3 separate regions of the Homo sapiens genome follow, and all the other regions are linked to region 1. Evidence: fine-mapped expression QTL. A gene starts in region 1. Each other region holds a variant in brackets. All regions are shown on one strand. Distances are between the middles of the regions. Region 1 holds the start of SLC44A2 (solute carrier family 44 member 2 (CTL2 blood group)). Region 2 has its middle 5.5 kb from the start of AP1M2. Region 3 has its middle 12 kb from the start of AP1M2.

The links. PIP is the estimated chance that this variant, and not a neighbour inherited with it, causes the effect.
Region 2: its variant is fine-mapped to the expression of SLC44A2 in whole blood (INTERVAL, PIP 0.97).
Region 3: its variant is fine-mapped to the expression of SLC44A2 in whole blood (INTERVAL, PIP above 0.99).

The regions. Positions count from the first base shown.
Region 1 is chr19:10,623,902-10,626,658 of GRCh38, reverse strand. SLC44A2 (solute carrier family 44 member 2 (CTL2 blood group)) reads right to left here and starts at 1,106. Exons shown (of 22, transcript NM_020428.4): 1 at 989-1,106; 2 at 358-406. The coding sequence starts at 1,025. RefSeq lists an enhancer at 2,067-2,648.
Region 2 is chr19:10,591,419-10,594,175 of GRCh38, reverse strand. No RefSeq gene overlaps it. Among named protein-coding and RNA genes, the nearest start is that of AP1M2, 5.5 kb to the right of the region's middle. RefSeq lists enhancers at 8-532, 1,059-1,583. The variant C/T (reference allele first, on the strand shown) is at 1,572.
Region 3 is chr19:10,597,782-10,600,538 of GRCh38, reverse strand. It overlaps the pseudogene LSM2P1. Among named protein-coding and RNA genes, the nearest start is that of AP1M2, 12 kb to the right of the region's middle. The variant A/G (reference allele first, on the strand shown) is at 1,621.

The DNA of each region.
Region 1 (2,757 bases):
CTTTGAGCTCACGAGGTCGAGACCAGCATGGGCAACACAGCGAAACATCTCTGCTAAAAGTACAAAAAAAAAAAAAAATTAGCCAGGTGTGGTGGTGCAAGCCTGTAATCCCAGCTACTTGGGAGACTGAGGTGGGAGAATTGCTCGAACCCGGGAGGCGAAGGTTGCAGTGAGCCGAGATTGAGATCGCGCCACGGCACTCCAGCCTGGTGACAGAGCAAGACTCCATCTCAAAAAAAAAAAAAAGTTTCAAATATTTGTCACCAGTTTGTTGGAGAACAGATGGGAGGGGGTGTGAAGAGACAGGGATTGGGGTAGTATTAGCGGGGAGAACCCCCCAAAACCCAGAGCTCTTACCTATTGTAAATGGGTCCTTTGAAAGTGGGATCATACTTCTGTGGCGTTCCTGAAAGTCAAGAAGATTAAGATGGATGGGATTGGAGACCTGAACCAAGACAGGGCTGGGAGAGCCCCCTCCCAAAAGCCCCTAGGGGTGTCTTTGCCTTGGCAAGAATAAAATTCAGAGACCTGTGGAATTTTCTGCCTCACCCACCTCCAGGTGACCACACCCAAGCCCCCAGTTCTGGCAGGCCAGGACAGGGGAGGAAGGAGGGATCACTAACTGTGAACAAACTTATTAACTGGCGGCCACCCACTGGGAAGAGGGCTGAAATGGTGACCACCACGGAACCAGGTGGAGATGGGGAAGATCTGAGGTGGGATAGGGGGAAGGAGGCGCCGGCAGCAGTGCCAGGCAGAGGGGTACAGGGGCAGGTCCTTCGGGTAGGGGAGAGTAAGGAGGGTCGTCTGCGAGGCTGCGGGGGATAAGTGGGGTGAAGGGGCCTGGCTGATGGTGGGGAGGCTCCAGGCGCAGATTTGCAATTGCGCTCCCCCTCCAGCCCCCTTCCCTGCGCCCCATGTTCTCTCAAGGCCCCCTCCGAGGGACCGAGGGGTCGGCCCGGGGCTACGGGCGGGGGTCGCTGCCTACCGTGTTTCCCGTAGTAGTGGGGCCGCTCGTCCCCCATCCCTGCAGGCGACCAGCCCCGGCGGCCGCCCGCGCTCTCTCCCGCGCCCCCTCGACCCTCCCGAGTCTGGAGGGAGGCACTGACCGCGCGACTGGCGGCGGCTCCTCCCAGCACAGCGCCAGGCGGGGCGGCCCAAACCGGTCAGACCGGCCCGAGCTGGGCAGCTGCCCAGACTAAGGGACCCGGGAGGGCGCGGGCGGGGCTGCAGCTGCTCCCGCCACTCACCGGCCGGCCGCATTTAGCCTTCCCCGCCCCCACCCGGGAACCCTGCGGCTTCACCCTGGGAACACCCTGCCACCGGGCGATGCCGCCTAGAACCCCTGGCCACCCTGAAAGGGCGTTTCCGTGGCTTCGTTTTGCAGGTGTGGAAACTGAGGCACTGGGAGGGAAAACGGCCTACTGCCCAAACCCAGACAACCAACTGTGGAATGTTGGTGCTGAAAACTTCTCCAAGCTGTGCAGGAAATTAGTTTTCTTTCTGTCTGCTGCTTTTTTTTTTTGAGACAGGATCTCCCTCTGTTGCCCAGGCTGGAGTGCAGTGGTGCAATCACAGCTCATCGCAGTCTCGACCTCCCTGCCTCAAGCCATCCTCCTGACTAAGCCTCCTGAGTAGCTGGGACTACAGGTGCTCTACTGCACTCGGCTAATTTTTAATTTTTTTTGTAGAGATGGGATGTTGCTATGTTGCCCAGGCTCATCTTTAACTCCTGGACTCGTGGGCTCCTCCCACCGTGGCCCCCCAAAGTGCTGGGATTACCTGCGTGCACTACTGGGCCTGGTCTTAGAACAAGTATTTATTCAGCCCTTAGTGGGTGCAGGCCTTGGGCGGGGCACCGCATACAGTGAGGAACCAGAGAGACCCAATCTCCACCCTTGTGGAGCCCACATCCTCCTGGGTCGCCCTGAATTCAAATGCTCCTTCTGCACCCTCTGAACTAGAGGATACTTAACAAAGGGCTTATCTTCCTTAAGCCTCAGTTTCCTCAACTGCAAAATGAGGCTAAAGTATGAAACCAAAACTGACCTCAAAGAGCAGGCATAGGCCAGGTGCAGTGGCTCATGCCTGTAATCCCAGCACTCTGGGAGGCTGAGGCAGGTCGATCAGGATTTCTAAGCCAGCCTGGCCAACATGGTGAAACCCCTTCTCTACTAAAAATACAAACATTAGCCAGTGTGGTGGCACATGCCTGTAATCCCAGCTACTTGGGAAGCTGAGGCAGGAGAATCGCTTAAACCCAGGAGGTGGAGGTTGCAGTGAGCCAAGATTGCCTCACTGCACTCCAACCTGGGGGACAGAGTGAGACTCTGTCTCCAAAAAGAAAAAGAAAAAAGAAAATAGGCTGGGTGTGGTGGCTAACACCTATAATCCCAGCACTTTGGGAGGCCGAGGTGGGCGGATCATGAGGTCAAGAGATCGAGACCATCCTGGCCAACTTGGTGAAACCCCGTCTGTACTAAAAATACAAAAATTAGCTGGATGTTGTGGTGTGCACCTGTAGTCCCAGCTACTTGGGAGGCTGAGGCAGGAGAATCACTTCAACCCGAGAGGCGGAGGTTGCAATGAGCCGAGATCGTGCCACTGCACTCCAGCCTGGGTGACAGAGCGAGTGTCTCAAAAAATCAATCAATCAATAAATCAAAAATTAGCCGGGTGTGGTGGTTCATGCCTGTAATCCCAGCACTGTGGGAGGCCGAGGCGGGCAGATCACTGAGGTCAGGAGTTCAAGACCAG
Region 2 (2,757 bases), 32 kb after region 1:
GCCTCAGGGGGATGGGGGAGGCCGCCACTGAGGTGGGGCAGGCGGGGCAGGCAGAGCCAGCACACAGAGCTGCTCTGTTCTCTGACCCCAAGTAAGCTTTTGGGCTCATGAATTTTTCATGCCAAACAAGCCTGGAGTTTCAGATTCCAGGGCACTGGGCCCAGGCTTTCGGGTTCTGCTTACTGCCTGAAAACATCTCAGGGCCCCAGGAGATGAGTTCTTCATTTTGTTGTTGTTGTTGTTTTTGAGACAGAGTCTCACTCTATTGCCCCAGGCTGGAGTGCAATGGCGCAATCTTGGCTCACTGCAACCTCTGCCTCCCAGTTTCAAGTGATTCTCCTGCCTCAGTCTCCTGAGTAGGTGGGATTACAGGCATGTGCTACCACCCCCGGCTAATTCTGTATTTTTAGTCCAGACAGGGTTTCACCATTTTGGCCAGGCTGGTCTCAAACTCCTGACCTCAGGTGATCCACCCACCTCAGCCTCCCGAAGTGCTAGGATTACAGGCGTGAGCCACCACGCCCGGCTGCCAGGAGACGAGTTATTTTGAGGTTCAGCAATGTCTAGGCTGGGGTGAGGGCCTAGCAGTGACTGCATCCCCCTAGGTGACCTTCTCAGCAGGCAGTTGCTGGGAGCATGAAGGACCACCCCCCTCCTTTGGGCAGAAGCAACATAAAGTCTTGGGCTTTAGGCTGGGCGAGATGGCTCACGCCTATAATCCCAGCACTGTGGGAGGCCGAGGCGGGTGGACCACTTAAGTCCACAAGTTGGAGACCAGCCTGGGCGACATTGTGAAACCTGTCTGTACCAAAAAGTATAAAAATTAGCTGGATGTGGTGGTCACGCACCTGTGGTCCCAGCTGTGCAGGAGGCTGGGGTGGGAGAATTGCTTGATTGCTTGAACCTGGGGAGGTGGAGGTTGCAGTGAGCTGAGATCACACCACTGCACTCCAGCCTGGGTGACAGAGACCCTGCCTCAAAAATAATAATAATAATAATAATAATAATCAGGGCCAGGTGCGATGGCTCACCCCTGTAATCCCAGCACTTTGGGAGGCTGAGGTGGGTGGATCACCTGAGGTCGGGAGTTTGAGACCAGCCTGACCAACATGGAGAAACCTTGTCTGTACTAAAAATACAAAATTAGCCAGGCATGGTGGTGCATGCCTGTAATCCCAGCTACTTGGGAGGCTGAGGCAGGAGAATCACTTGAACCTGGGAGGCGGAGGGTATGGTGAGCCAAGGTTGCACCATTGCCCTCCAGCCTGGGCAACAAGAGTGAAATTCCATCTCAAAAAACAAAAAAGTCCGGGTGCAGTGGCTCAAACCTGTAATCCCAGCACTTTGGGAGGCCAACGTGCAATGCGGGCGGATCACAAGGTCAGGAGTTTGAGACCGTCCTGGCCAAAATGGCGAACCCCCATCTCTACTAAAAATACAAAAATTAGCCAGGCATAGTGGCACAAACCTGTGGTCCCAGCTACTTGGGAAGCTGAGACAGAAGAATCACTCGAACCCGTGAGGCGGAGGTTGCAGTGAGTCAAGATCACACCACTCCACTCCAGCCTGGG[C/T]GACAGAGCGAGACTCTGTCTCAAAACAAAAAACAAAACAAAACAAAAAAACCTTGTGCTTTCCAGAGCTCAAATCCCAGCTCTGCTTCTTCTGACTGGATGACATTGTACAAATCACTTACTCTCTCAAGGCCTCAGTTTCCCTATCTGTCAAATGAAGATAATAGAGTTGGGGGAGGTGACTCGTGTCTGTAATCTCAGTGTTTTGGAAGGCTGAGGTGGGAGGACAGCTTGAGGCCAGAAGCTCAAGACCAGCTTGAGCAACGTAGCGAGACCCCATCTCTACAAAAAATTTAAAAATTGGGCAGGCACGGTGGCTCACGCCTGTAATCCCAGCACTTTGAGAGGCTGAGGTGTGCGGATCACGAGGTCAGGAGATCGAGACCATCTTGGCTAACACGGTGAAACCCCGTCTCTACTAAAAATACAAAAAAATTAGCCGGGCTTGATGGCGGATGCCTGTAGTCCCAGCTACTCCGGAGGCTGAGGCAGGAGAAGGGTGTGAACCTGTGAGGCGGAAGTTGCAGTGAGCCGAGATTGCGCCACTGCACTCCAGCCTGGGCGACAGAGCAAGACTCTGTCTCAAAAAAAAAAAAAAAAAAAATTTAAAAATTAGCTGGGAGTGGTGTTGCTCACCTGTAGTCCCAGCTACTGGAGAGGCCTAGGTGAGAGGATCTCTTGAGTTCAGAAGGTTGAGGCTGCAGTGAGCCGTGTTTGCACCACTGCACCGCAGCCTGGGCGACAAAGCAAGTCCTTGTCTCAAATAAATAAAAAAAAAAAATAGGCTTCTGTAATTCAAGGGGCTGTCTTGAGGATTCCTGCATGGGCGACATTTAGGGCCACCCTCACTTATGGTGAGCACCATTTAAGCCAGAGTTAGTGTTACTAATAGTAATATTTGCATCCAGCAATATAGCAAAGCAGGCGGAAGCAGGCTGGGACCAGATTCTTAAATCCCGGGACTCAGATTCGAATTCTGGGTCAACTGCCTCCTGGCTCTGGGGCCGTGGGCTTGGGCAGGTGCCTTCACTTCTCTGTGTCCCTGCTTCTACCTTTATAAGATGGCACGAAGGAGACTTGTGCCAGATGATAACTTTTTATTTTTCATTCTATTTATTTATTTTCTTGAGACGGAGTCTCACTCTGTCACCCAGGCTGGAGTGCAGTGGTGCCATCTCGGCTCACT
Region 3 (2,757 bases), 26 kb after region 1:
CGTAGTGGGCAAAAAAACTAGGAGCAGCCCAAATGCCCATTAACAGATCATTGGTGAAGCAAACCATGGTGGGTTTCACCCATACCATGGGATTCTCCTTAGTGATGAGGAATGAATGTTTTCTTCTTTCTTTTTTTAGGGACAGGATCTTGCTGTATTGCCCAGGCTGGATTGCGATGGTGCAGTCATAGCTGACTGAAGCCCTGACCTCCTCAGCTCAAGTGATCCTCCTGCCTCAGCCTCCCGTTGCTGGGACTACAGGCACACACTATCATGCCTGGCTAATTTCTTTCTTTCTTTCTTTTTTTGACAAAGTTTCACTCTTGTTGCTCAGGCTGGAGTGCAATGGTGCAATGGTGTGATCTCAGCTCACCGCAACCTCCGTCTCCCAAGTTCAAGTGATTCTCCTGCCTTAGTCTCTGAGTAGCCGGGATTACAGGCATGCACCACCACGCCTGGCTAATTTTGTATTTTTAGTAGAGACGGGGTTTCTCTATGTTGGTCGGGCTGGTCTGGAACTCCCGACCTCAGGTGATCCGCCCCCCTCAGCCTCCAAAAGTGCTGGGATTATAGGCATGAGCCACCGCACCTGGACATACTCGGCTAATTTTTTAAATTTTTGTGGAGATGAGGGTCTCCCTATGGGTGCCCAGGCTGGTCTCAAGTGATCCTTCTGCCTCAGCCTCCTAGAGTGCTGAGATTACAGGTGTGAGCCACAGCGCCTGGTCCAGGAATAAACTATTGATACAGGCAAAAATATGGATGAATCTCTCCCCAAAAAGCATAATGTTGTGTGAAAGAAACCACACACTTTTTTCTGAAGTTCAAGAACAGGCATAGCTAATCAACCTATAGTAACAGAACATATATCAGTGGTTGACTTTTGGGGTAGTAATAACTACTGGGATGATAGGAGCAGCTTCTGGGCACTGGAAACAGAATTGTAGTTACATAGCTTAGTTTAGTTTGTGAATACTTGACCTTCTCCCCCGTACTCTGCCTGCCTTTTTTTTCTGAGACAGAATCTTGCTCTGTTGCCCAAGCTGGAGTACAGTGGCAATTTTTGTATTTTAGTAGAGACGGGGTTTCGCCATGTTGCCCAGGCTGGTCTCGAACTCCTGATCTCAGGTGATCCACCAACCTCAGCCTCCCAAAGTGCAGGGATTACAGGTGTAAGCCGCTGTGCCCAACCGACTTCTGCCCTTTTAAAATATGTGTTGCTGGCCCGGCACGGTGGCTCACGCCTGTAATCCCAGCACTTTGGGAAGCTGAGTTGAGTGGATCACAAGGTCAGGAGTTCAAGACCAGCTTGACTAACTTGGTGAAACCTGGTCCCTACTAAAAATACAAAAAAAAAAAAAAATTAGACGGGCGTGGCGGCGGGCGCCTGTAATCCCAGCTCCTCAGGAGGCTGAGGCAGAGAATTGCTTGACCCCGGGAGGCAGAGGTCGCAGTGAGCCAAGATTGCACCACTGCACTCCGGCCTGGGTGAAAGAGTGAGACAGCATCTCAAATAAATAAATAAATAAAATAAAATATGTGTTGCTCTTCCTGGTCAGGTCGCCAGCATCATGCTCTTCTATTCCTTTTTTCAAGTCCCTTGTGGGCATGAATGTGGTC[A/G]TGGAACTCAAGAAAGACCTGAACATCTGTGGCACCCTCCATTCGGTGGATCAGTATCTCAACATCAAATGAGCTGACATCAGTATCACACACCTTGAGAAATATCCTCACATTTTATCAGTGAAGAACTTCTAGGCTGGGTGCAGTGGCTCACACCTGTAACCCCAGCACTTTGGGAGGCCAAGGCAGGTGGATCACCTGAGGTCAGGAGTTTGAGACCAGCCTGGCCAACATGGCAAAACCCCATCTCTACTAAAATACAAAACTTAGCCGGATGTGGTGGCGGGCGCCTGTATTCACAGCTACTCGGGAAGCTGAGGCAGGAGAGTTGCTGGAACCCGGGAGGTGGAGGCTGCAGTGAGCTGAAATCATGCCACTGCACTCCAGCCTGGGTGACAGAGCGAGACTCTGTCTCAAAAAAAGTTTTTTAAAAAGGACTGTTTCATTCCGGGCTCAGTGGTCCCATACGTGCAGTTGCCAGCAAAGGAGGTCGACACACAGTTGCCATAGCATGCAGCAAGGAAGAAAGCCAGCAGTAGTAAGTGACAGCCCCTCCTTCTCTTCCCTTCCCTCTTCCTTGGTGACCTGTAACTCCAAGTCCCAGCCCAGGACCCCTAACTCCCAATACTTGAAGGGGTTTTGTTTGTTTTTTTACTAATGATGGTTTTGTGGGTTTTTTTTAAAAAAGGGAAGAGTGGATAAGGGGAATAATAGGGAACAGGTATCCTTTGTTGAGAAAGGGAGAAGAGGTAGGCTGGGAAACTCCAAAGCCTTCCCAGTCCCCAGCACCTGCCGTTCTCACTACCTCCCTGGAGATGGTGGGAGGGAGGGCTTCCTAGGTCTTTCCAGGGTACCATGTGATTCACCTGGGGGTTGAAAGGAATCTGTCCCATATTGGGAATAACATTTATGATGCAAATATATATGTGTGTTTGTATACATAATAAATAAAAAAGTTACATTTCAAAATGAGAATTTTTAAAATAGTTTAAGAAAAAAGGTGGTGGTCCTGCAGATTATAATAAGAGTGACTGTTTACAGCCAGGAGTGGTGGCTCACATCTGTGATCCCAGCACTCTGGGAGGCAGGAGGGTCACTTGAGGACAGGAGTTCAAGATTAGCCTGGACAACACGATG